Linked DNA regions of Homo sapiens: regions 2 and 3 are each linked to region 1. Evidence: fine-mapped expression QTL. A gene starts in region 1. Each other region holds a variant in brackets. All regions are shown on one strand. Distances are from middle to middle.

Region 1 (10,724 bases):
AATTTTATTTCATTTTTTTTTTTTTTTTTTTTGTAGAGACGGGGTTGGGTCTCAGTATGTTGCCCAGGCTGGTCTCAAATTCTTGGGCTCAAATGATCTTCCTGCCTGGCCCCCATAAAAGCTTGGATTGCAGCTTTTATGGTGGTGTCAACTGTCACCGCCCTAAAATAAACCCCTTTCTGTGTTAGTCTGTTTCGTGTTGTTGTAAAGGAATGCTTGGGACTGGGTGATCTCTAAAGAAAAGAAGTTGATTTGGCTCACGGTCCTACAGGCTGTATAGGAAGTACAGCGCAGGTATCTGCTTCTGGGGAGGCCTCAGGAAGCTTCCAATCATGGCAGAAAGGAAGGAGAACCCAAAAGTCACATGGAGGGAGAGGGTGCCAGGGAGAGGAGGAGGTGCCAGCTGCTGTGTGAACTACTGGAGCAAGAAAGCACTCATCATCACTGGACAGCAGCAAGCCACTCCTGAGGAATCCGCCCCTGGTGCAGACACCTCCCACCAGGCCCACTTCCAACCCTGGAAGTCACGTTTCAACATGAGATTTGGAGGGGGGGCCACACATCCAAACCAAACAAACCCTCTGCTTGCTAGACGTCTCCCCTCCCCCACCCCCCCTCCCCCAGCCCTTGGCAGCCACCCCTCTTTGTTCTATGGATTTACCTGTGCTGAAAATCTCATCTAATGATCCTATGATGTTTGTCATTTTGTGTCTGGCTTATTTCACTTGGTGTGATGTCTTCAATGTTCATCCACGTGTGTCAGAATGTCATTTTTTTTGAGACAGAATGTTGCTCTGTTGCCCAGGCTGGAGCGCAACGGCGTGATCTCTACTCACTGCAAGCCCCACCTCCCGGGTTCAAGCGATTCTCCTGCCTCAACCTTCTGAGTAGCTGGGACTACAGGCGCCCACCACCATGCCCGGCTAATTTTTGTATTTTTAGTAGAGACAGAGTTTCTCCGTGTTGATCATGTTGATCAGGCCGGTCTCAAACTCCCAACCTCCTGATCTGCCTGCCTCAGCCTCCCAAAGTGCTGGGATTACAGGTGTGAGCCACCGCGCCCGGCTGTGTCATTCCTTTTCATGGCTGAATAATATTCCACCATATGAAGAGGCCACATTTTATCTGCTTATCTGTGGGATACTTGGGATGTCTACACCTTTGGCTTTTGTGAACGATGCTGCTGTGGACACCCGAGTCCACAGTTCTGTGTGGACACACATTTTCATTCCTCTTGGGCACACCCGGAACAGAAATTGCCAGGTTGCATGGTAATTCCATATTTAATCATTTGAGGAACTGCCTGTTCATGATCACTTTTTATTTGATGAAGCATTGATTTTCCAGAGAAGGAAATTTAAGGCTCAGAGAGGGTAAGACACATGTCCAAGGCCACACAGCCAGGAAGTGGTGGAGCTGGCATTTGAACCCAGGCCGTGCGTCTGCAGAGCCAGAGAAAGGCCCGGAGCTTCCCTCCCCAGGTCCCCAGGCGGCCTGCGGGCCCCTCCACAGCCCAGTGATCCTTCAAGCACTCCCAAGCCCAGCCTCCGCCTGCAGCCCCTCCACAGCCTGTCCAGGGCAGGGAAGGGCCACCTCACAGGCCACGGCCTCTTCCGCGCAGTGCCTGGGGGCCGGTCTTGGGGACAGTGGCGTGGTGCCCCTGCCTCTCCCGTCTTCCACACAGACAACTGCGAAGGTGAGAAGGGTGAGCGGCGTCTAGACGGCGCTGTCCACCCAGCGGCAATAAAATCGGATGTTTCCGCACACAGCACCGTCACAGGCTATCACCGTTTAACACGGCAACTCTTAAAATCATTGCTGCTGCGTCTAAACCGTCCTGAGCTCACAGCTGAGCCCAGGAAAGGGCTTGGGGTGCGCGCCAGCCGGCAGCCACCAGGCTCCCCATCCCACAGTGTGGGGTCATGCTTCCCGCCCAGCACGGTCTCGAGGGTGGTGGATCCCAAAATTCCTTGGGATGCCAGCGCAGTCCCTTCAGCCACCCAGTCAGCAGGTATTTATTGGCACCTACTGGATGCTAGGCAGGAGCAAAGGACACTCACCTGCTCCCCACTCCAGGGTCTCGTGTCTCTGACTCCATGGCAGGACAAAGGTGAGAGCCCGCCATGCTTCGGGGCGACCTACCGGGCTCCGTCCTGCCCTTGAGTCTGCGGCTCAATGGGGCCCCACCGAGGCTGCTCCCAGGGAAGAAGCATTCTGGCCAGGCAGGGCCCGAGCCTGTGTCAGTGAGAGGCCCTGTTGCCTGCCCTGGAGGCCGATCCCTGCAGGGGCCAGTCTAGGCAGGGACGCCCCTCTTGTCTGCATATTCCCGGGGCCTGGCTTCCTGGCCGCGTGGGCAGCCTCCTTGGTGGCGGTGACCTGGGTCCCCGGCTCACAGGCCACACGTAGCAGCAGAACCCAGAGCTGGCTGGGAGAAGGGGTCTCACTGGACACCAGGCAGTGACCGCCACGGCTGGCTCTCCAGGCTTTGCCAGGAGAGGACTCTGTCCACCAGCCCTTGGTCCAGATTCTGGCAGACCAGCCACGGGCCCCACTGCTACAGGGAGCTGAGGACCAGTCAGGGCGTGCCTGTCCCATCGCTGCCATGCCGGGCCCCACTGCCGACGTCCTCCTTCCCCTGGGCAGCGTGGGGGATGCTGAAATCCGTGGGAGACCCCGAGAAGCCCACCCCACCTTCTTGGGTTCCGCCACATGATGGCTGAGCTAGGAGGTCACTTGTACTCTCTCCCCGCAGCTCTTTGTCAAAGAAAAGCATTGCCCTTAAAAACAACCCCGGCCAAAAAAAGAAAAAAGGAAACAGCGAAAACCAGAAGCAAATTTTCCAGAGACCTGGAGGATTAGAAACAATACATCTGAACGTTCTGGAGTTGAATTAAACCATCTCAATGCCGGTTTCCAACCGTCCTGGGCTTCTCTCTGACGCTCAGCGAAGGGCGCGCATCACGGCATCACCGCTCTCAGGACGATTTCCCGTCTCGTCTCACTGGACCGTCTGCCGTTTATGTCCTTTCTCGGTGGAGGCCCTCACGTCGCGTTGAGGTGGTCCCCGCTCCGGCTGCGTGAACGCGGCCTCAGCTGCCTCATCTTCCGGCAGATGGATGTTCAGAGCAGGGAGCATCCATGTTCCAGGCGTGCGGGCACCTGTCCCGCCGGACGTGGAGCGTGCAAGTCAGTGGGCAGCAGCCCAGGGGACACAGAGCCCCCAAGGACAAGGTGGGCACGCCATCCGATGGGCTGGAGTGAACGGAAAGCGGTGGGAGGCAGCCTCCGTCCCAGACCTTGAGCTGGAAAATGCCCGCCCGGGTGCTGGAGAGGCTCCAACTGGTCTGCAAATTGTCCGTGGGATGCCTGGCGACTGCACGCTTTCTCAGATTACAGACACTTTCTTTAAAAAAAATCTGTGGGCCGGGCGCGGTGACTTACGCCTGTAATCCCCATACTTTCAGAGTCTGAGGCAGGCGGATCACGAGGTCAGGAGTTCAAGACCAGCCTGGCCAACATGGCAAAACCCCGTCTCTTCTAAAAATATGAAAATTAGCTGGGCATGGTAATTACATGCCTGTAATCCCAGCTACACGGGAGGCTGAGGCAGGAGAATCGCTTGAACTGACACCAGGAGGCGGAGTTTGCAGTGAGCCGAGATCACGCCACTACACTCCAGCCTGTGATACAGAGCGAAACTATGTCTCAAAAAAAAAAAAAAAAAAAAGTCTGTTATAGAAGTCCGTGGTCTTTTTCCCTTCTGCCGACATCTGGAGGACAGAGTGTGGCCGGGAGGGCAACAGCTGCTGTGTTCAGAATTCCAAGATGCTTCCCAGGCGCCCTCTGGGTCTTCCCGCTCCCCGGCTCCCTCCGGCCTGCCACAGGGCCTTTGCATGGGCTGCCGTTGCTGCTGGAAAGAGCCTCTGCTCCTCTTCCGGCTGCCGGCTTGTCCTCACAGAGGCCCCGCCCTCGTCTATCTGGGCGCCCCCTGGCACTTAGTTTGGAAACTGTTTTCTCCTCCCCATAAGACGGAAGCTGCAGGCATGAGAACCGGGTCTGTCTGGTCACAGCCAAGGCACCTCCACCCTCCAACCGGGCCCCGCGCACTGTCCACCCTCAACTACCATTTGTCCAGCAAATCAACGACAGCCCCCAGCTAGAATCTGGAGCTTCAGTCTGTGGCTTTGCCTTAGCTTTAATTAATTAATTAATTAACTTATTATTTTTTTGAGGCAGAGTCCACTCTGTCACCCAGGCTGGAGTGCAGTGGCGTGATCTCGGCTCACTGCAACCTCTGCCTCCTGGGTTCAAGTGATTCTCCTCCCTCAGCATCCCGAGTAGCGGGGATTACAGGCATATGTCACCATGCCTGGCTAATTTTTGTATTTTAGTAGAGACGGGATTTCACCATGTTGGTCAGGCTGGTCTCGAACTCCTGACCTCAAGTGATCCACACACCTCGGCCTCCCAAAGTGCTGGGATTACAGGCGTGAGCCACTGCACCTGGCCCACCCTAACTTTTAACGAGCAGGGTGTTGATAAAAAGATCAGAGGTTCCAAGTGCCCTCTGGACCGGACTCCGATTCAGCGTTTGTGTCTCCCCACCTGCTCCAGCCTCCCTCCACGGATGTGTCCAAAGCACGGGGCTCTCCTAGGTCCTGCTCCTCTGTGGCTGGAACCTTAATTGGACCTTTGAAGGCCTAATTCACCAGCTGTGGCCCTCCATCGCTGAGTAGTTGCATTAAAATAGACTGAATGTTTTCCTTTTCTTGAAAGTTCCCGTATACAGGAGGAGGTGCTGCTGAAAGGACCTGTACCCCAGCCAGGCCCCCACACTCCTGCCTTCCAGTTCCTCGGCCCACCCCAGGTGCTGTGTGTCCTTCCGGGCCCCAGCTGGGCAGGGCCTCTTCTTCACCCTGCACGATGTGGCCCACCCGGGGGAGGTCCTGCTTCTCTGCTGCTCACCCGCAGGTGGGAAGCCACAGCCGCCCCACAGCCTCTCCGGGTCTGGGGTCTCAGGGTGCGCCCTGGAGCAGGGCCTCTTTGTCTGGAGGGAGAAGGGGTCTCTCCCACTACCAGGGGCCCCTTGTTGGCGGGCGTGCTGAGGTGCACACCTGGGAGCTCAAGCTCCCTGGTGCACAAAGCAGTGGTCCCAGAAGCAAAACCACCCTTCCAGCCTGGAGGGGTGCCCTGGGGGGAGTCAGGAGCCTGGGCACCTGCCCCCACCTGCTGGCACCTCGAGGTGCGGCCAGCCCTCCCTGGGACAAGGGCCTGGCCATCCCCAATGTCTGAAGGGTCCACCCCTTCCCGACCAAACCACTTGCTCTGAGGGTCCAGGGGAAGGCCCTTCTGCTGGCCTGGCTGAAGGAGCAGCTGCTGGCAGGGGGAAGGGGCCTGCACTTCTCCTCGGGGGCCCCTGGGTGAGTCTCGCTGAGGCAGCGGGGTTGGAGGATGCAGGAGCACCAGGCTGCCGTCCCCAGGGTCCCCCAGATCCCCACGCGGGAGGGGACCGGAGACGAGGACAAGTTCGCGGAAACTGCCCGTGCGTGTCGGGGAGAGATGCGAGTGCAGGAGCGCCCAGCCGTAAAGCACACCCCCGCCCGCCCCCGCGCCCCATCACACACGCGCGCGCGGGCACACCCGGGACACACACGCGGCGGGGAAGGGGCACGCAGCCTCTCGCCTTCCACGCCCGCCCGGTCCCCGCCCCTCCGCCGACCCGGGCCCGCGTCGTAGTGGGGGTGGGGGTGGGGGCGGCGGCGGCGCGCGCGGCAGCGCGAAGGGGGAGGGGGAGCCGGAGCGGGAGGGGGAGGGGCGCGGCATCGGCGGCTCGGCCGCCCCCGCAGTTGGGGGCAGGGAAGGACGTAGGTGCTCCCCCTCCCACCCCGCCGGAGCCTCCCGCGAGCGCCCCCTGGTGCACCCCACGCCCGGCATTGTTGGGGAGCACGAAAAGCGGGGAGCCCAGTGCGGGGGCGTGGAGGGGGCGCGGGCGGGGTCCAACTTCCCGCACCCGGGGGGGGGCGGGGCGCCGGGCGGCGACAGGGAGGGGTCGCTCGGGCGCGCGCGTCTCGGGCCGGGGGCGGATCCTCCCCAGTACCCCCCCGCCCGCCCCGCCCCCGGCCCCGCCCCGGCCACGCTGGCCCCGCCCCGGTCGCGCCGGCCCCGCCCCGCCCCGCCCCCCGCCGCTCAGCCCGAAGTTTCCTGCGCCGCGCGCGGACGGGCTCGAGGCTCGCTCGCTGCCTCACCGGTCCCCGGCCCGCGCCCCGCGCCCCGCGCCCCGCGCCCCGGCCTCACCCGTCCGCTCAGCGGCCTCCACGCCGCGCCGAGGCCGCCGCCGTCGCCTCCGCCGGGCGAGCCGGAGCCGGAGTCGAGCCGCGGCCGGGAGCCGGGCGGGCTGGGGACGCGGGCCGGGGGCGGAGGCGCTGGGGGCCGGGGCCGGGGCCGGGGGCGGAGGCGCTGGGGGCCGGGGCCGGGGCCGGGCGCCGAGCGGGGTCCGCGGTGACCGCGCCGCCCGGGCGATGCCCGCGGGGACGCCGCCGGCCAGCAGAGCGAGGTGAGACGCGGCGAGGACGCGCGCCCGGGACCCTCTTCAACTTGCGCGAAGCGGGCCGGGGAGCCCCTCGGGGTGGGGGTGGGGCCGCTGGAGGGAGGGAGGGGGCGGGCGGGGGCGGGGGGCGCGTTTGTCTCTAATAAGAAAAGACAAAGACATCCCGGCGGCCGCGGCTGTTCCCGCAGCTCCGCGCCGCGGGAGGCAGGGCGGGGGCGTCGCCACCGGCCCCGGGTCACCCCCTGTCCTCTGCAGGTGCTGCCGGCCGCCACCATGACCGAGGGCGCACGGGCCGCCGACGAGGTCCGGGTGCCCCTGGGCGCGCCGCCCCCTGGCCCTGCGGCGTTGGTGGGGGCGTCCCCGGAGAGCCCCGGGGCGCCGGGACGCGAGGCGGAGCGGGGGTCCGAGCTCGGCGTGTCACCCTCCGAGAGCCCGGCGGCCGAGCGCGGCGCGGAGCTGGGTGCCGACGAGGAGCAGCGCGTCCCGTACCCGGCCTTGGCGGCCACGGTCTTCTTCTGCCTCGGTCAGACCACGCGGCCGCGCAGCTGGTGCCTCCGGCTGGTCTGCAACCCATATCCTTCCCGGCCGGCGGGGGGCGGGGGGCGGGGGGCGTGGGGAGGGTGGGGGCCCGGGGCGCGGGACTCCCTCGGCATGCGCCCCCGCGCGCCCCTGTTGGTGGGACCTGGCGTGGGCCGGGCGCGCGGGGGTGCAGGGCAGGGGCTGGAGGACCGCGCTCTAATTTCTGAGAGTGGCGGGCTTGGGGGGCCACCGGGCGCCTCCGGACTCCCTTCCCCAGGGCCGGCTCCGGACGGAGAAGGTGGAAGCGAAGCGGTGAGGCCCCCGCGGGCTTGGAGGGGAGAGGAGTCGGGGAGGGAGGGAAGGTCCTAACTCCTCGCGGCCCCAAGGGTGTTGGCCAGGACGGGAATTTCCCCCTTGCCCACCCCTCACTGTCTGAAGGTCCTGCCCGAGGCAGGCCCCTCGCGGGGGAGGGGGAGGCCAGAGGAGCTGGAGTCAGGGGCGCAAAGTTTTCAGCCGGCGCCTGGTGGTTCCGAGTGCGTGGGGAGACCCGTGGGGCCTGTGAGCGCCGCCAGGGCCTTTTCCGTGGAGAGAGGCGGTGACGTTGGTTGTGAACTCGCTTTTTCTGGCTGAACTCGGTGGCGGGGCTGACTTAAGTCATGCGCAGCTGAAGGGTAGGGGGCAGGGAGGCAATTGGCACTGCCAAGGGGGAGTCTCATCTCCCCAGCCCCTTCCCTGGCTGGAGAGGAAGAGGCAGCCTCTTCTACTCTCGGCCAGAGCGGCACAGACTGCAGAGAAGGTTCCAGAACAGAGTTGGGTCAGGGCCAGGGGCATTTGTGGGATGTACACGGAGGTCCAGGGGGCCCCCCAGCAGGTGGCCTTGGGGGCGGGTCTCCGCGTGCCCTGAGAAGGGCCTTGCGTGGTGCCTGTGTCAGGGCCGGGTCTCCCCACCGGCCCTTCTGAGCCGGCAGCTGGGGTGGCCAGGCCGTGGCTTCTGCTCCGGGCCTGGGGACGGGTGGAGAGACCCTGCCCGCAGACGTCCCCCGTCGGAGGTGGGGAGACAGGCTGGCAGCAGGAGCGGCCTGTGTACACTTCCCTACCTTGTGTGTTTAACTGTACAAATATTAAACACGAAAGAGGAATCTGTACAAAAAAAGTCATAAAGCCCGTGTTTCTCCTTTCTCAAATCCAAACATCGAGTGAGTCAGACTCATCTCTGCTTGTAGAGGAAGAGGAGGCTGCTGTGGTCCCGGGGGCAGCCGGCCCCGGCCAGAGGGCTGCCTCGGAGCCCCACACCCGCTGCCCGGGCGGCCTAGGCCTCTGTAGCCTCAGGGTGGTGTCTGCGAGTAGGTGGGTGTCCCCGGGAGCCGAGGTGCAGGCCCGGCCTTGAAGAGCGGTTGTAGGTTTGTCTCCTCTCTAGAACCAAGGCGGGAGGTGGTCATGCCCCTTTGTTCTGGTAGGAGGTGACTGGGTGTGGGGTTAGTCCGGCGGTGCCAGCAGGCCATGGGGAAGGGTCTGGAAGGGACTGCATGGGTTGGAATGGGAGGCTGGCCCCGAGCCAAGGCCTGCGTTCCTTGTTTCCCAACGTGTGCAGACCGGAGAAGGGAAAGAGTTGAGCAAGCCTGGACTCTCTCCTCACAGCCCCGGGCCTGGCTGCCCCATCCCCAAGCAGGGCATGGACTCTCTTCACAGCCCCGGGCCTGGCTGTCCTGTCCCCTCTCGGCTGAGAGAGTTTTGGAGCCTGGCCCCGGTGTTCTGGGCTGGCTGTGTGTCTCAGGACTTCCAAGGAGGTTGTTTGCGTTGCTGTGTGCAGGGAAGGTGTTGGCTGGGTGGCCTCATGCAGGTGGGATGAGCTCTCCAGGGGGAGAGGAGGGCTGGGGCCAGCGGCATCACGTGACCCAAGCGCTGTCCCCCGGTGTCCTGAGGAGCTGTCCTTTTGGGCTTTGTGACCTGACAGGAGTATGCTCTGGTAGCCCGAGAGGGACTTGGGTGCTGTCCTGGTCTCGGGGGCTGGATGGTGCTCTCAGCCTGGGAAGAACAGAGCATGCCCCATCCCTGGTGTCCCCAGGGCTCTCTGGGCTGGGAGAGAATGGGTGGTCGGCCTCCTGCCCTTCGATGGCATCCCTTGCTTGGAGCACTGGGTCTGCCTGCGGCACGGCAGGACCCCCCACCCTCCTCGCCGCCAGCACCTCTGGCACGCTTTGGCTCTCCCAGCTCCAAACGCAGTGATGGGGGGTGTCCCCACTCCAGGAGACATGGGAAGCAGAGCTTAGACCCCAAGCTTGGTTCATTCTTGGCCCCGTGGAAACGCCCGTCGGTCAGGTGGAGTGGGCTTGTGGAGGCCCCGGCTGCATGGGGGTGGGTGTGACCACCAGCAGATGCCTGGCCTGTAGCGAGGGTGTGTGTCCTGGCGTCAGAGAGAACCTAAAATAAGCTGGCAGGCCTGGACAGGTGGGGGGATTGGCTGAGCCGGGGAAGCCCATGTGGGCCATGGCTGAGGCTTTCCAGAGCGCTTCAGATTCCTGGGAGTTGGGAGGGGGAGGCTTTGCAGGAGGCGGCAGGGGCGGTGGGCGACTGGTGTGGCTGGGGTGTGTCCCGTAGCAAGAGGGTGCTTCCTGGGCCTCAGCCTCCCCTCCCTCCGCAGGGCCCCGCATCCCTCCTGAAGAGGGTGAACTCTGAGAGGGAGGGATAATCGGATTTGCTCAGGGAACCCACACTCAGTAAAGTGACTCCATGCTCCCGGGGGTTGGCAGAGCCCCAGCTGCTGTCCGCCGGGCCCAGCCTGAGCCGGGGTTCAGTCAGCACAGGAACCTGGGGGAGGGCCCGCGTTTATCCCTGAACCTCTCCTGAACCCCGGGGTAGACGCTCAGCACCAGGGAGCACATGCGTGCTGGCTCCATCTCCAGGGTGACTCCATCCCAGGCAAAGGAGCCTCCAAGGACGCCCTTATCCTTATTGATTGGTTTCTTAAAAATATAATTGTCTTAGAACTTTTGGGGCGAGCGCTGCTTCTCCTCCACAGGTTTATTTATAGAGAAAGGTGGGTGGGATCTGTGTGTTGTCGCCCGGCTGGGTTATGTGCTGCCCGGACTCCCGGGGTTCCTGACTCCGCGTTCGCCTGCGACACAGCTGCCGCCGTCCCGGCACACGGACGGGGCGGGGCCCCCGGGAATGCTTGGAGGCCAGGAAGGGGGACCCTGCTTCGGTCCCTGCGAGAGCGAGGGAGGCGGGCTGTGGGTGTGTAGGGACCAGAAGGTGACCAAGGGGTGCTTGGGGGCTGGGGGTTGGCAGGACCCCCTGGGAGGCGTCTCCCGGGGCCCAGGCTCCAAACACCCCGTGTCACGGAGCTCTGAGATGGGGAAGGATATATCAAGGTCATCGGGATGCTGAAGGACAGAGCTGGGTGAGCCCATCCTGGCTCTGAGGGCCACGTGTTTGGCAGAGCGCTGCCTGGGTGGGGACGAGCTGCGGGAGCCTGAGACAGCCCTTCATGGCATCTCTGAACACTCGGCGCTGGGGCTGTCACGCTGCTCCGCGGGCGTCCCCCGGGAGTGTGAGAGGGCACCCGTCTGGAAAGGGCCAGTCCCGCCTGCGCCCGCCTCCCCGGGCTCCACGTGCCCCGCAGGCCTCTCGTGGGCAGGACGGGGCTGGTCGTCCCCTA
Region 2 (10,724 bases), 45 kb after region 1:
GGCTGGCCTGGCTGTGTGGCCTCAGGCACACTTGGGGTCTCTGACCCAGTAGGCTGGCCTGGCTGTGTGGCCTCAGGCACACTCGGGGTCTCTGACCCAGCAGGCTGGCCTGGCTGTGTGGCCTCAGGCACACTCGGGGTTTCGGTGACCCAGCAGGCTGGCCTGGTTGTGTGGCCTCAGGCACACTCAGGGTTTTGGTGACCCAGCAGGCTGGCCTGGCTGTGTGGCCTCAGGCACACTCGGGGTCTCTGACCCAGTAGGCTGGCCTGGCTGTGTGGCCTCAGGCACACTCGGGGTCTCTGACCCAGCAGGCTGGCCTGGCTGTGTGGCCTCAGGCACACTCGGGGTTTCGGTGACCCAGCAGGCTGGCCTGGTTGTGTGGCCTCAGGCACACTCAGGGTTTTGGTGACCCAGCAGGCTGGCCTGGCTGTGTGACCTCAGGCACACTCGGGGTCTCTGCGAGCCGTCACCTGTGCAGCACCGCAGGTCCGGGAGATTTGGGGTTCCATTGTCGCCAGGCTTAGCTCGGGAGGCCGTCTGCAGCTGGCGTGCCTGCAGGCCCAACCTTGCCCCTCTATGGTCTTCTGCTGTGTGTGTGATTTTGGCGGAGGGGGATGCACCTGGATGGGAGGGGCTCACTGGAGCCACACCCCTGCTTGGAAAAGACAGCACCCCATCCCCCACTAAACCAGACGGTCCGAGAGGTCGGGGAGGGGCACCCAGGCCCCCTCCTGGCTTCCCTCGCTGCCAGTCACAAAGGCTTGGGGTGGGTCTCAGTGGCATGGCAGAGGGGGCAAAGGTGTCCAGGTAGGACCCTGGCCTGGGGACCCCTAGTCAGCTGTCTTTGAGGAGTTGCTAGGCACTGGGTGCCACCCACCCCTGCCAGCCCCTCTGCCGTGGGCAGCTTTCATGGTGACTGGCACTGATGGGCCCTGGGCTCTGACACCATCCACTCCACTCTGCTGGCTGGACAGTCTTAGAGATGGCTGGTCAGGGGTGCTGGCCCCTTCCCTTCTGTCCCCATTGGGCCCTCCGCCTCAGGGTCTGGGCCGGGTCCAGAAGTCAGCATTCCCCTCAGTGCCAGGAAGGCCATGCCGTAGCTTTAGCTCAAAGTCCTGAGCTGGCTAGGGTGGCAGGAACTGCCAGGGTCAGGCAAGTGGCTGGGGGCCAGCTGGGGTACAGGGAGGGTGTGAAAGGCCTTGTGTCCAGGTAGCCCCCTAGCCTAGGGCACCCTCTGCTCCAGCCTGGACATTTCTGGGGGGTCTCCGGGGTGATCTGAGAGCAAACATGGGGCAGGCCTGGGAGAAATCGGGCAATGGCTGGAGACATCTGGAGGCGGGTCTCAGCCCTCAGTCCTGGAGTCCAGGGGTGGCTGGAAATTGCCTGCTTTGGTAGTGGAATGTGTGTGTGCTGGTTGGGAGCCGGCCCAACTTGAAGGAGAGTGTGGAGAGAGGAGACAGAAAGGCGGTCCGAGGCACCCACAGGACAAGCAGTCCCACCACCCCCCATTGGGTAGATGGGTAAACTGAGGCCTGGGATGCCCTGTGCCCAGGGAGAGGCAGTGCCACCTACAAGACCCCTGGCTCAGCCAGGCTGGGGTAGAGTGCCGTGGGGGCTCAGGTCAGGGAGCACCGTTCCCCACACCTGCCTGCTGTGTCCTGTTTGGGCCGGGTGTCTTTGAGCTCCTCCCCGCCAGCCTGTTCCGTTTACCCAAGAAAACCCCTCCCCTCGGGAAATGATGGCCCTCAGAGATGCACAAAGACAGTCCCCAGCCACCCCCGCAGAAAGGTGCTATTTGCGGCAGTTAGGGGACAAAGGTGCCCGAGGCTGGGGGCGGAGCCGCCATCCACCATCGCTCCCTTGCACTAGTGCCGGGTCAGGAGGCTGGGAGAGGCCAAGGGGCCTGGCACGGCTTCCACAGCAGGGCCTCGGCTCCTGCCCCCACCACCTTGACCAAGGCACGCAAACCCCACCCCCACCTCGTCCAGCAAGGACTGTGCTCTGAGGCTTGCCGTGAAGGCGCTCACACACTCTGGCCGCTGGGGTCGCAGTGGGTGCGTCATCGGTAGGCGGCAGTGCGTGCTGTGGCCTTGCCCACCTATGGGACAGCGCGTGGCTGTGCCAGCATGCCAGCTGCCTTGGCGGGAGGCTGATTTCGGCTTTCTTGCAGCAGTGTTACAGCAGAGGCGCCTGTTACCGCTGAACCCATTAAGTGTAATTACCGCACTCTTGGTGGGAATATGTAATTACATTGGTGGCCTGGAGCCGTGGCACTGGCATCAAATGCTGACCTGCTAGGAGGCTGGGCCCTGGCTTGGTGGGAGGGAGGGTTCCAGGATGAGCTGCTGGGGTCCCTGGGGGAGGGGCTCCAGGCTGGAGTGACAGGTGGGGGCAGGGAAGGCCCTCGTCACCAAGCCTGTTCCCCTCCTACCGTGGCAGCTGCCCTTCCTGTGATCCCTGAGAGTTTGAGACACTCAGACCCTGACCCCAGTGCTGCACGCAGCACCCAGGACCTCCGCTGTAGTGAGCGTGGCCCGTGTTGGGCAGGGGGCGCTGCTGCCACCATCATCCGGGTCCCAAGCAGGCCTGCCAGGGGTGAGGGGGAGCCGTGGGCGCTGAGGCCTGTGGTCTGCGCCAGGTGGGTGCTGGGAAGGGCGGCCCCCGAGAGTCAAGCACAGGCCCAAGTCCAGAGCCAGGGGTGGGGGCGGCCACCGGGCTGCCCCTGAATCAGCTGTGAGAGGATGCCCAGCTCTGTCTCCTCCTCGGTTCCCACGTGTTGGTGACGGCAGGGACTGTCAGAGCTGGTGCCTGACTTCCCAAGGCTGTTCGCTGACAAGTTGGTGCTTTCCAAATGCCGGCTTCTACCTTAAGGAAGGTCCCTCCTGGGTCCACAGTCAGCTGACGGATTGCCTCTCCCTCCTTCCTCTGGTTCCCTGGTCAGGGTGGGGCCGCGCAGCCCTGGGACAGGGGCCCTGGAAAGTCTGCCCCGAGTTGTGCCACCGTCCAGGCCTGGAGGGTGGGACGGGGAGTCCTGTCCGGTGGGTTGCATGGCGGTGCCCCGACATTCCCCCTGCCCTGGGGCCCTCCCAGTTGCACAGGGTGCCCTGCCTACAGCCCCCCAGCGCGGGAGCCCTATGCAACCTGGGCCCCATGTGGGCAGCTAGGCCCTGGGAGTCTGAGTGGCCCTCACTGGGGCCTCACTACCGATGCGGCCAGCCCACCGAGGGCTCCTGCACCCCGCTTTCCTGATGAGCCAACGCCGAGGGCCAGGGGGCCGGGCCTGGGACCCTCACGGAGCAGAGCCCGGCCAGGCGCAGGCCCCAGGCGCCACCTGGTGGCTGCTTTCAGGAGGGGCGGCCGTCGGTCCCGAGTCCCCCACCCCATCCTGGACACCCCCACGCGCGCACACCCGTGGCGGGGCTCCGGCTGACCGGGTGGGCATTTGGAGGGCCCCATGGGAGCGGGTCCCGGGCCGCGCCGGTGTGCTCCTTAACCCGCGGCGACACATGGTTCGAGCACGTGAGCATGCTGGTAATCATGCTCAACTGCGTGACCCTGGGCATGTTCCGGCCCTGTGAGGACGTTGAGTGCGGCTCCGAGCGCTGCAACATCCTGGAGGTGAGGGGCGTGGGTCGGGGTGGGGAAGGAGCGTGGGTCGCTACGAGGTTTATGGTTCAAGGCGGAGTGGGGCGGGGGCGGGGCAAGGTTCAAGGTGGGGCGTGGAGTGGGTCAGGGTCGGGGATCAGGGCGAGGTTCACGGCGGGGCGCGAGGTGGGGCTGGGGGTGGGGCAGGGCGAGAGGCGAGGTTCAAGGCGAGGCAGGGCTCAGTTCCTGGGGCTCAGGGCGGGGCAGGGGCGGGGCGAGGGGTGTGGCAAGACTGGGGGCCGGGCTCTTGCGGGGCTGGGGTTGGGGGTTGTGGGCTGAGCTGAGCTGTTCCACGGGCCCTCCTGATGCCTCCTCCCGCAGGCCTTTGACGCCTTCATTTTCGCCTTTTTTGCGGTGGAGATGGTCATCAAGATGGTGGCCTTGGGGCTGTTCGGGCAGAAGTGTTACCTGGGTGACACGTGGAACAGGCTGGATTTCTTCATCGTCGTGGCGGGGTAGGCCCCGCCTGGGAGAGGCCACAGCGCTGGCGAAGGGGCCCCGCCCACCCCACAGGGATCCCTGTGTCCCACCTGTAAAGAAAAATGGGAGGTGTGTTCTAGAGGGATCCAGGTAGAGCCAGGGACCCTGTCTGGGACTCCGGAGACCCTCCCTCCTGGGCACAGGTGAGGGAGGTGGCCTCCTGATGTGACCAAGCGTTGTGCTCCTGCTACCTCGGGGCCCTTCCTGGCCAGTACAAGGTCCTCCGGGTGCCGGGCTGGCCGGTTCTATGCCTGCCCACCCTACTTTGCACCCCAGCCCCACCCTGGACCACCTGGGCTCCTTGTTGAGCTGCTCCCCCTCGGCCCCGCCCCCAGCATGATGGAGTACTCGTTGGACGGACACAACGTGAGCCTCTCGGCTATCAGGACCGTGCGGGTGCTGCGGCCCCTCCGCGCCATCAACCGCGTGCCTAGTAAGTGACCGGCCCCGACTGGGCTTGAGATCAACAGGCTTGCGTGTCCGCCAGCCCTGCAGAGCTCTCAAAAGGGCCCCCAGGAGCACAGGACTGGGAAATGAAGGTTACCAGGCACTCCGGCCCCAGCCCAGACCCCAGCAGTGGGGTGGCCCCTGCCGCTATCCGTGGGCCTTGCATGTCAGGGGAGAATCAAGCTGCGGTGTGGTGGGCAGTCAGCATTCACAGGGTACCTGGCTCCCACACAGCCGAGTGACAGGGGCCACTCCGAACCTCCGGTTCCTTCTCTGCATGGCATCTGGGGCAAGGCTGGAGGCCGAGCAGATCCCTGGTGGCTTTGCTGTCTGGCGCATCCTGGTGTGGCTCGTGGTGGAGACACTCTTGTGGGTGTGGCTCAGCTCACCTGGGGGCTCTGTGAAGCCCCGCCTTCACACCCACACAAGTGAGGGGAGAGCCTGACACCTGTCCTGAGGACACCTCGCTCTCCCCACCCGCCACTGCTTCTGGCCCCTACTCTCCTGCCAGGATCCCCACCTAAGGAAAGGGGAAGTTGGCTGGCCAGGGCTGGGCCTCCGTGTCCCCTGCTGAGCAGCTGATTTTCTAGAAGGAAGGCTGGAAATCCTTCAGGATTTGGCCAGCAGGTGTGAGGAGGGGGCCTGGTGGAGAGGAGCTGCTGTGTGTCTGCTGTGCGCTGGGTGTGAGGGGAGGCGGAGGAAGAGCTTCCAGGAAGTCATATGCCTGCTTGTTTGGGAAACATCCTGTCAAATCCGGGCCACCCACCTGCATCAGGGGATGGGGTGGGATCGTTCTTTAAGCACTCAGGGCTACATTCAACTGCTCTGGTTCCTGGGGGTCGGCGCGGCCCCCACGAGGCCGTACCAGGCGCGAGTGCATACTGCGTGTAGATGTGGCCCCGTGTGTGCACGTGCGGGTGTAACACAGCCTTTCTGGCTGCCTGACCTGGGTCCTGGTGGCCTTGGCACTCAGGGCTTGACCTGCAGCAACCCCCCAAAGTCACAGACCCCCAAGGCTAGGCACTCCTTCCCATGGGGCCTCTGGCTTCCCGAAGGGCAGGTGGGTCATCCTCGTGCCGCTGGTCCCTGAGCCTGCCTTCCACCTGCCTGCCTTGGCTCTACTGTGTGGCTCAGATAGGGCTTGAATACTGTGTGACTCTGAGCAACTAGCTGAGCCTGAACCTCAGTTTCTCCTGGAATAGTGCAGTACAGGAGTAACCATGACCCCAAGGGTGGCTGAGCGTGCGGTGAGGGGACGCGTGTGTGGCTCTTGGCCCTTTGCCCGGCACCCACTGTACGTTCAGTCTGCACGCCGGCCTGGCCCCACCTGTTGAAGCGTGAAGCAACCCAGCACACACAGCCCCTTCCTTCCATGGATGTTTACTTTTCAGGTTAAATTGCCAGAGTGGCCCTAATTGTCGCCAGCAGCCTGGCCTCCTGGGGATCTGCTCCTGTCTCTAGGAGAGAACTAGGGAACTCTTCCAGACTGGATAATACGCTTCTCATAATGAGGACACGCTCAGGGCTGCATCCTGTTCTGTTGGCTAGGGGTCCACTCTGACCTCTGGGTCATCTGTGATCTTTGAGGCGGTTGCGGTCTGGCCAGGGCAGTGCTCACTGATTGTCTGCTCCGGTCGGCTCTTTTGACACTTCAGTGCTCCTCCTGGCTCTGACTCACCCTTGTGACCTGAGGGGCCCGTTTTGCCATTGATACCCCTGGGTGCTGGGTGAGAACTCAGCGTCCCCAGGTTCCTGGCCCAGGGCTTTACCTGCTGCCTTAGCCTGGCCCTTGATTAAATTTGAGGGAAAGGACGTCTTGGGGGAGCAGGCCCAGGATGGAGCGAGGGGCGCGTGGGGCTTGGCTGACCCACTTGCTGGATTAATCTGGAGTTCACGTAGCCCATAGCACCCAGGACCGATGGCTTCAGTGCTACCTCCTGAAAAGCCGCTGCCGGTCCTCCCCACCGCCTCCAGCAGCCTCTCTCTGAGATGGGGCTCTGTTCTGGCAGGATTCTCACTGGGAATCAGACAAAGTTTTCAGGATCCCAGACCTGCTGCAGAGACCCCCAGGAGGCAGCCCACCACCTGAGGTTCTGGGGCTCCCAAGGCTCCTGCTGCCTTGGTGGCAACTTCAGGGTGTCGCCAGACAAGCCTCGAGGGCCACTGGGCTCCGCCTGGTCATCCCGAGCCCGAGATGCCACGTGGTCAGACCTGCCGCAGCCAGTTCCCTGCCTCGGCCAGTCCCCTGCCTCCACTCCTGCCCCTCCACACCCCAGCCCTCCAAAAGCAGCAGACCTGCTGCCCTGGGATGGTTGGAGGTGGAGACCTGGCGCCCCGCTGGATGCACGTCAGACCCCAGGGTGTCAGTGTCCCTGGAGGCCGGTGGTGGTAGGAGGGGAGTCCCGATCACACTAGGGGTGCGGGAAAATCACCAGGGGGTGGCCCGAGTCAGTGTGCAGTGGGCGTGGACACCCACTGTGAACAGTGGACGGGGCTCGGGGGTCCCGGGAGGGGCTGCAGCCCCGAGGACACTCCTGCAGGGCTTAGCAGTGCCAATCCTGGCCCTGCTGCCCACAGGCATGCGGATCCTGGTCACTCTGCTGCTGGATACGCTGCCCATGCTCGGGAACGTCCTTCTGCTGTGCTTCTTCGTCTTCTTCATTTTCGGCATCGTTGGCGTCCAGCTCTGGGCTGGCCTCCTGCGGAACCGCTGCTTCCTGGACAGTGCCTTTGTCAGGTGCCCAGGCCCCACCCCCGTGAGGCCCCTGCCCAGATGGCCCTGCCCACCATGCAGATAACGCACCATGTGGCTCCACCGCCCCACGTGGCTCTGCCCACCGTGCAGTCACCCGCCCCGCCACTGCTGTCCCCGTCATGGCTCCGTCCACCATGCTGTCTCCCGCCCCCACCCCCCATCATGGCTCCGCCCAGCTGGCAGTCACCGCCCCACATGGCTCCGCCCACGGTGCAGTCGCTGCACATATGCCCCACCCCCCACCATGGCTCCGCCCACCGCGCAGTCGCTGCACATATGCCCCACCCCCCACCATGGCTCTGCCCACCACGCAGTCGCTGCACATATGCCCCACCCCCATCATGGCTCCGCCCACCGTGCGGTCGCTGCACATATGCCCCACCCCCATCATGGCTCCACCCACCGTGCGGTCGCTGCACATATGCCCCACCCCCATCATGGCTCCGCCCACCGTGCAGTCGCTGCACATATGCCCCACCCCCCACCATGGCTCCGCCCACCGCGCAGTCGCTGCACATATGCCCCACCCCCATCATGGCTCCGCCCACCGTGCGGTCGCTGCACATATGCCCCACCCCCATCATGGCTCCGCCCACGGTGCGGTCGCTGCACATATGCCCCACCCCCATCATGGCTCCGCCCACCGTGCGGTCGCTGCATATATGCCCCACCCCCATCATGGCTCCACCCACCGTGCGGTCATTGCACATATGTCCCACCCCCAGTGCTGCCACCTCTCAGCCCCCAAGACAGGTTAGTCCCAACACTTCATCCCCTCCCCACACCCCAGAGTCCGTCACACCTTACCCCAGGGTCTCCCCTCGGCCCTTGCTCTG[C/T]AGTCTCTCCTCAGCCCTCACCCCGGGGTCCCCTCAACCCTCACCCCGGGTTCTCCCCTCAATTCTCACCCCCGAGTCTCCCCTCAGCCTTCACCCCAGGGTCCCCTGAGCCCACACCCCGGGGTTCCCTGCCCTCAGCCCTCACCCCTGGATCCTCTCAGCCCTCACCCCAGGGCTGCCTCCTTTCCCTCACCCCAGGCTTCCCTCCCCTCGTCCCTTGCCCTTTGCCCCTCATCCGCTTCCAGGAGTTGCTGAGGTCTGAGCCTGGGTTTCTGGCTCTTGGGTCTCCCTCCCTGTTTGTCTGTGCTGTTCTTTGTTGATTTCTCTGTCCATCCCTGTTCTTTGTGTGTTTGTCTCTGTGGACTTGGGCTGAGGAGAGTGTGGTTTCTGCAGCACCACTGTGTTCTTGACCCTGGTCCTGGCTGTGTCCCCTGATCCGGGTCTTGACCCTCAGTCCTATCATGCCCCCTGACCCTAACCGTGCCTCCCTAACCATGATTAGTCCACTGGCCCTGACCCTGATCACGTCCCTGACCTTGATCACGTCCCTGATCACAATCGTGCCCCCGACTCTGACCGTCCCTGACCCTGATTGTACCTTTTGGCCCTGGCTGTGCCCATCCCCAGGAACAACAACCTGACCTTCCTGCGGCCGTACTACCAGACGGAGGAGGGCGAGGAGAACCCGTTCATCTGCTCCTCACGCCGAGACAACGGCATGCAGAAGTGCTCGCACATCCCCGGCCGCCGCGAGCTGCGCATGCCCTGCACCCTGGGCTGGGAGGCCTACACGCAGCCGCAGGCCGAGGGGGTGGGCGCTGCACGCAACGCCTGCATCAACTGGAACCAGTACTACAACGTGTGCCGCTCGGGTGACTCCAACCCCCACAACGGTGCCATCAACTTCGACAACATCGGCTACGCCTGGATTGCCATCTTCCAGGTGGGCGGCAAGATGGTGGGACGGGGACCCTGGGGCACGGCAGGGGAGCGGGTGCAGGACTCGCCCCCCCCAGCCCAGACCCCAGGGGCACGGGGAGGAGGAGGAGGGGTCGTGCGGGCCCAAGTCAAGCCACTGCCCCCCCAGGTGATCACGCTGGAAGGCTGGGTGGACATCATGTACTACGTCATGGACGCCCACTCATTCTACAACTTCATCTATTTCATCCTGCTCATCATCGTGAGTGTGGGCGGCAGTGTTCGCCATGATGGGCCCTGGTGTTAGCTGGCTGGGGGTGGGGTGGGGTACCTGGGTGGTCATAGGGGCTCCTGTCTGTCTTCCAGCTGAAGGGAGCACACAGGGGAGGGAGGCAGAGCTTGCGGGGGTGGGGAGGTGTGGCTGGGGACCCCAAGAGGCCATGGCATCACCTAGACAGGGTCCAGGCCTGTGGGTGCTGGCTCAGGGCTGAAGAGCCAGGAACACCCTGGGGAGTGCATAGCCTCCCAGCACCGCTTTCCACGGGCGTGTGTGGCCCCAGGTGTGCTCCTTAGCTGGTCCTCTCATAGGCCCCAGTGGGTCCTGGCAGAGTTGGGTTAATCAGGCCGCAGACGTCTGTGGGGTCCTAGGTATACCTAGAGCCACCCTGCGGGGACCTAGTAGGTAACAGAAGCAGACAGACGTCCCCAGCTTGTTCTGAGAGAGCAAGCGAAGCGAACGATTAGAGACTTGCTGCACGCTGGTCCATGCTAAGGAGGAAACGCACCTGGGGTGCTGGGGAGGGGAGAGTGGCCACCGTTGAGAGGGTCATCTCAAGGCCAGATCTGCAGGTAAAGGAGGGGCCGAGCCACATGGAGAAGCAGGAAAGAGGGTTCCAGGTCTTTTGTCCAGATAGGCACAAAGCAGCTACTGTATGCCGTCTGCTCCAGACGTGGGGGCTCAGCACTGAACACCGCAGCAGCCTGCCCATAGCAGGGCACCTCGCCCACTGTGCCTGTGACGCGGCCCCCACTCGAACAGGCAGCGCACAGTAGGGCTCAGTGGCGAATCAGAGACTCGCTCACTCACTGCCACTTACCCGCCCGCCCCCGTCACAGGTGGGCTCCTTCTTCATGATCAACCTGTGCCTGGTGGTGATTGCCACGCAGTTCTCGGAGACGAAGCAGCGGGAGAGTCAGCTGATGCGGGAGCAGCGGGCACGCCACCTGTCCAACGACAGCACGCTGGCCAGCTTCTCCGAGCCTGGCAGCTGCTACGAAGAGCTGCTGAAGTACGTGGGCCACATATTCCGCAAGGTCAAGCGGCGCAGCTTGCGCCTCTACGCCCGCTGGCAGAGCCGCTGGCGCAAGAAGGTGGACCCCAGTGCTGTGCAAGGCCAGGGTCCCGGGCACCGCCAGCGCCGGGCAGGCAGGCACACAGCCTCGGTGCACCACCTGGTCTACCACCACCATCACCACCACCACCACCACTACCATTTCAGCCATGGCAGCCCCCGCAGGCCCGGCCCCGAGCCAGGCGCCTGCGACACCAGGCTGGTCCGAGCTGGCGCGCCCCCCTCGCCACCTTCCCCAGGCCGCGGACCCCCCGACGCAGAGTCTGTGCACAGCATCTACCATGCCGACTG
Region 3 (5,269 bases), 56 kb after region 1:
ACGGCATCATCGTGGTCATCAGGTGGGTCCCCACCCTCTCCCCAGGAAGAGGGGCCCGGGAAGCTCCACTCTCTGGCAGAAATCCCACCTGCAGAGCAAAACCCAGAGCACAGGAGGAAGTACGACGATAGCTCTTTATGACAGGCCGTGGGAAGCAGGTGCTTGGTGACCCCAGTGGCCCAAGGGACCGTCCTGGGCAGAGTCCCCTCCCCAGACGCTATGCTTCCCTGCAGGCACTACGGGGTGCGCACCTGTTAGGTCAGCTGCGTCTCAGATGTTTCTAGAAACTAGCGGAGCTGTTTCCTGCAGGAACAAAGCAGGTGTGGGGTGGCCTCAGGGCCGAGCGAGAAAGACCAGCTTAAAAGGCTGAATCCTGCTTGCTGCTGGAGGAGCATTTGCTACAAGAAAATTAAACCAGAAAGGATTGGGAAAATTTGAGGGGAAACGCCCCCGGTCTTCCCCTAGGAGGACGCTCATCCCTCAAGAGTAGAGAGGGGTGCAGGGTCTCCCATCCTGGGGCGGGGAGGGAGTGAGCAGAACGGACAAGCCAGGTCTGGCTGTGGAAGGCCCAGGATAGGAGAGCGCCCTCGGCGAAGGAGCTTCCCTGCCCTGGCCAGAGCCAGGCTTCTTTCCCAGGGGGCACTGGGGGCCGGGTAGCCCCCGGGGCCATCAGCGGATAAGCGGCTTTTGAGGTGCTTCCGCAGCTGTTCATGCACCTTGATGCAGCCATACCCTCTCCCATCTGTGGGATGCAGCACAGGCCGCTGTGGCTCCCTGGCTGGTGACCCTGCTTCCAGTGGGACGAGGGCCTGGGGTCAGGGATCGTGGCCCCGCTGACCCTCGCCCCCACCTGTCCGCAGCGTCTGGGAGATCGTGGGGCAGGCGGACGGTGGCTTGTCTGTGCTGCGCACCTTCCGGCTGCTGCGTGTGCTGAAGCTGGTGCGCTTTCTGCCAGCCCTGCGGCGCCAGCTCGTGGTGCTGGTGAAGACCATGGACAACGTGGCTACCTTCTGCACGCTGCTCATGCTCTTCATTTTCATCTTCAGGTGGGCGCAACCCCCCTCCCGGCCCGCCCAGTGTCTCACCCCAGGGCAGCTGGGAGGCAAAGGCCCAGGGCACCCCCCGAAGGAGAAGGAGCCCTCCCACCAGCAGCCCCAGAGCATCTGCAGACACTCGGCCTCTGCTGCCTTCATTTGAGAAGCACTGATTGGGCCCCTACTGTGTGCCACGTGTTAGACATGCAGGGAGTCAGATGGCAGGGGTCAGAGATGGGCCGCCAGGTGGACAAGCTGGGGATTTACTCAAGAGCAGAATACCGGGGGTGGGGGCAGGCACCAGGCTCCAACTGGGGTGTTCTGAGCGCCTGCTGTGTGCCCGTCTAGCCTGGAGCTCAGGGTCAGGGTCGGCTGGAGGCTAGGCAGCCAGGCAGGCCGGGCTTTCACAGTCCAGAGAGGCTGAATGAGGCAGGTGTCCCAGGTTCCAGTTGCCACCCAAATCCAGAGTGGCTTCCCTCTGTCTGTCCCGCCTCTGGTCTTGGTTCTCTCGCCTGTGGAATGGACACTACTGAGTTGTAGGGCAGGAAGTCCCTTTTAAGCTAGAGAGCTCGGGCGCCCAGGGAGGGTAGGAGGCCAGGAGAGCCAAGACGGGCAGAGCCAGTCCTGCCCCTCCCTCCTCCCACCCCCCTCCCGCTCCCCCACCTTCTTCCGCTCAGCACACCCCTGCCTCCACCCTCAACACGCCCCTGCCCCCACCCTCAGCATCCTGGGCATGCACCTTTTCGGCTGCAAGTTCAGCCTGAAGACAGACACCGGAGACACCGTGCCTGACAGGAAGAACTTCGACTCCCTGCTGTGGGCCATCGTCACCGTGTTCCAGGTAGTGCCCGGGGTCCCCGCAGCAGTGTTGGGTGCTGAGTGTGGTCCCCAGAGAGGTGGAGGTGCCGTCCTGCGCATCCATAGCTGCCTCTGCCCCAAGGACTTGCCGGCATTTCGGGGCTGGGGTGACCACCCCAGGCCCCCTGCTATCCCCCAGATCCTGACCCAGGAGGACTGGAACGTGGTCCTGTACAACGGCATGGCCTCCACCTCCTCCTGGGCCGCCCTCTACTTCGTGGCCCTCATGACCTTCGGCAACTATGTGCTCTTCAACCTGCTGGTGGCCATCCTCGTGGAGGGCTTCCAGGCGGAGGTGAGGGGGCAGGGAGAGGGGCTGCCAGGAGGAGGGCGATGAGAAGAGAGACGGGCTTCAGGTCGAGGGGAGGGGTGTGGGGGGCCTGCCAAGAGGTGAGGGATAGAGAAGGGAAGCTGGCTGCCATGAGGAGAGGGGAGGCCAGGAGCCCAGCGGAGTGGGCAGGGGTCGGTCGGGAGAGGCAGATTCCTCACCTACCTGCCCACCCTGGCAGTGACATCATCCTCTGGGCCCTTCTGTCCACACCCCACCTCCCAGGCCAGCCCAGACTTCTGTCCGGCATGAAGGGTCCCCACTCACGGGGCCCCTCATGCCTGCCTTGTGCTTTGTTGGGTTTAGGGCGATGCCAACAGATCCGACACGGACGAGGACAAGACGTCGGTCCACTTCGAGGAGGACTTCCACAAGCTCAGAGAACTCCAGACCACAGGTGCGTGTGGTCGGTGGGTGGTCCGGGTTCTGGCGGGTGGAGTACGCTGGGCTGGCCGGGCAGGGCCCCCATAAGGCAA[T/C]CCCTAGGTTGGGGGATTCCTGGTCCTGGGAGCCTGGCAGCTCTAGGGGCCCATTCCTCCCTCTGTCCCGCAGAGCTGAAGATGTGTTCCCTGGCCGTGACCCCCAACGGGCACCTGGAGGGACGAGGCAGCCTGTCCCCTCCCCTCATCATGTGCACAGCTGCCACGCCCATGCCTACCCCCAAGAGCTCACCATTCCTGGATGCAGCCCCCAGCCTCCCAGACTCTCGGCGTGGCAGCAGCAGCTCCGGGGACCCGCCACTGGGAGACCAGAAGCCTCCGGTAGGGACCATCTCCTGCCCCAGCTCTCAGGCCCCTTCAGGTTTTCCCTGCCTGGCTCCTTATGGCCTTCCCTGAAGATGAGTGAGGGCCGCACCCCCCACACCCTTGAAGTCCCAGCCTGTGCAGAGACTGAGAAAGAGTGTTCTGGTTTCCGGAAATGGAAGCTGTGGCTGCTGTTGTGTGAGGCCGGTGTGAAGGGGCAGACGCGGAAGCTCTGTGCGCCCAACAGTCTAGCAGAGTGCACAGCGCACAGCACAGAAAGACCGAAGCAAGCAGGGGCAGAAGCGTGCCCGGCAAGCAGACGGCAGGCCAGGCGGGGGTTCCGCTGCCACCAGAAGCAGCCCGATTCCCTTTACGGCCAGGGCATCTCTCTGGGTCCAGGGGGACTGGAGGGGAGCAGTTTTGAAACGAACTCCAGGCAGTACCACCCACAACAGACACGGAGGATGGGAGTGAGCCAGACGCCCTAGCAGGGGAGGAAGCGGGGCAGCTGTGAGGCAGAGCCGCAGGCCCAGTGTGCTCCTGGGGACACGGGGGCCACCCACACTTTGTCTGGTCCTGGGCTGGTTCTGGCCCCTGACCCAGCAGAGCCCAGGGCATCACCCCCGCGAGGCGGACACCCTGACCCTCATGAGCTACGCCTGTGGCTGGCTCGGTGTCCCCCTAAAATCACAGCCTCCACCGTGCCTCCCTGGCGGGGCTATGCATTAAATGATCCACGTGTGGCTTGCACACAGTGGGTGCTCCGTAATGACAGCGGTCGGTGCTAATAGTGATGCCACCAGGTCACTGACTCCCGCCACCCCCCAGGCCAGCCTCCGAAGTTCTCCCTGTGCCCCCTGGGGCCCCAGTGGCGCCTGGAGCAGCCGGCGCTCCAGCTGGAGCAGCCTGGGCCGTGCCCCCAGCCTCAAGCGCCGCGGCCAGTGTGGGGAACGTGAGTCCCTGCTGTCTGGCGAGGGCAAGGGCAGCACCGACGACGAAGCTGAGGACGGCAGGGCCGCGCCCGGGCCCCGTGCCACCCCACTGCGGCGGGCCGAGTCCCTGGACCCACGGCCCCTGCGGCCGGCCGCCCTCCCGCCTACCAAGTGCCGCGATCGCGACGGGCAGGTGGTGGCCCTGCCCAGCGACTTCTTCCTGCGCATCGACAGCCACCGTGAGGATGCAGCCGAGCTTGACGACGACTCGGAGGACGTGAGTGCGTGGCCCTGGGCCCACCGCCGACTCGCCTTCGTCTGTCTGGGGCAGGTTCCCTCAAGTGGGGTTTGAGATGGGATTCAGGGCGTGTTGTTGACTGAGGGGATTCAGAAGGGGAGAGAAGCAGGCCAGGCCAGGGAGGAATCCAGCAGTGTTCAGGGATTCAGCCACAGATGATCCCAGAGTCCCCCCTCTGCCGTCTAGGGGCTGTGAGCTAAACGCTCCACGCACGGCCTGCATACGGGGGCTGGGCTCTGCGCCGTGGGTCAGCCACTGGCCGAGAGCTGCTGCCGAGGCAGGGCCAGGCATCCGCTAGGCTCTCAGGCTTCCGTGGGTCAAGGACCACTCCCAGAGTCAGGGACCCAAGAGCACCCGCTCACCTGGCCCCGTGGACTCCAGCACGGGTCACTCTGCCGTCACCAGCGTAGGGAAGGGGGAGGCTCCACGGTATGGGCCCCAGAGGCCAGAAAGCCAGAGCCCAAAGGCCAGCGGGTGAGGAGTGAGGATGGAGAAGGCTGAGAAGGTGCTGGGAGGGGTGGCCGAGCTGAGCACAGAGGGCCCTGATGGGGGGCCGGGCAGGCAGGCGCAGGCTCTGAGAAGCCGCCGCCTCATCCCACAGAGCTGCTGCCTCCGCCTGCATAAAGTGCTGGAGCCCTACAAGCCCCAGTGGTGCCGGAGCCGCGAGGCCTGGGCCCTCTACCTCTTCTCCCCACAGAACCGGTGAGGCGGCCGGGTCAGGAGGCTGCATGGCTAGTTCCACCCCACGGGACCCCCGCCCCCAGGTCCCTCCTGGGTGGGGCTAGCACATGGTGGATATTTCCGAGTGGGCACCCCTTCTCACACCGCAGGGACCGGGGCTGAAGTGGAGGCGTGGCCAGGGCTGTCCTGCAACCCCCATCCACTCTGCCATCCACGCCGCCCCGCCCCACCTCTCACCCGCCCCCGCCCACCCAGGTTCCGCGTCTCCTGCCAGAAGGTCATCACACACAAGATGTTTGATCACGTGGTCCTCGTCTTCATCTTCCTCAACTGCGTCACCATCGCCCTGGAGAGGCCTGACATTGATCCCGGCAGCACCGTGAGTCAGCCAACCCCAT

What was found.
Region 2: its variant is fine-mapped to the expression of CACNA1H in CD4 T cells (BLUEPRINT, PIP 0.95).
Region 3: its variant is fine-mapped to the expression of CACNA1H in whole blood (TOPMed, PIP above 0.99).

What each region holds. Positions count from the first base shown.
Region 1 is chr16:1,146,918-1,157,641 of GRCh38, forward strand. It overlaps CACNA1H (calcium voltage-gated channel subunit alpha1 H), which reads left to right and starts at 6,189. Exons shown (of 35, transcript NM_021098.3): 1 at 6,189-6,553; 2 at 6,803-7,119. The coding sequence starts at 6,821. LOC124903622 (a long non-coding RNA gene) reads right to left here. Exons shown (of 2, transcript XR_007064937.1): 2 at 10,055-10,272. RefSeq lists enhancers at 5,088-5,668, 7,043-7,810.
Region 2 is chr16:1,191,466-1,202,189 of GRCh38, forward strand. CACNA1H (calcium voltage-gated channel subunit alpha1 H) reads left to right here. Exons shown (of 35, transcript NM_021098.3): 3 at 3,507-3,618; 4 at 3,967-4,100; 5 at 4,461-4,558; 6 at 7,150-7,309; 7 at 8,791-9,106; 8 at 9,251-9,343; 9 at 10,198-10,724. LOC124903623 (a long non-coding RNA gene) reads right to left here and starts at 10,246. Exons shown (of 3, transcript XR_007064938.1): 1 at 10,179-10,246; 2 at 9,867-9,924; 3 at 9,341-9,756. RefSeq lists enhancers at 6,554-7,113, 7,114-7,671. The variant C/T (reference allele first, on the strand shown) is at 8,164.
Region 3 is chr16:1,205,244-1,210,512 of GRCh38, forward strand. CACNA1H (calcium voltage-gated channel subunit alpha1 H) reads left to right here. Exons shown (of 35, transcript NM_021098.3): 11 at 1-22; 12 at 861-1,046; 13 at 1,758-1,875; 14 at 2,032-2,187; 15 at 2,527-2,617; 16 at 2,770-2,978; 17 at 3,789-4,169; 18 at 4,792-4,892; 19 at 5,127-5,250. Among named protein-coding and RNA genes, the nearest start is that of TPSG1, 17 kb to the right of the region's middle. The variant T/C (reference allele first, on the strand shown) is at 2,697.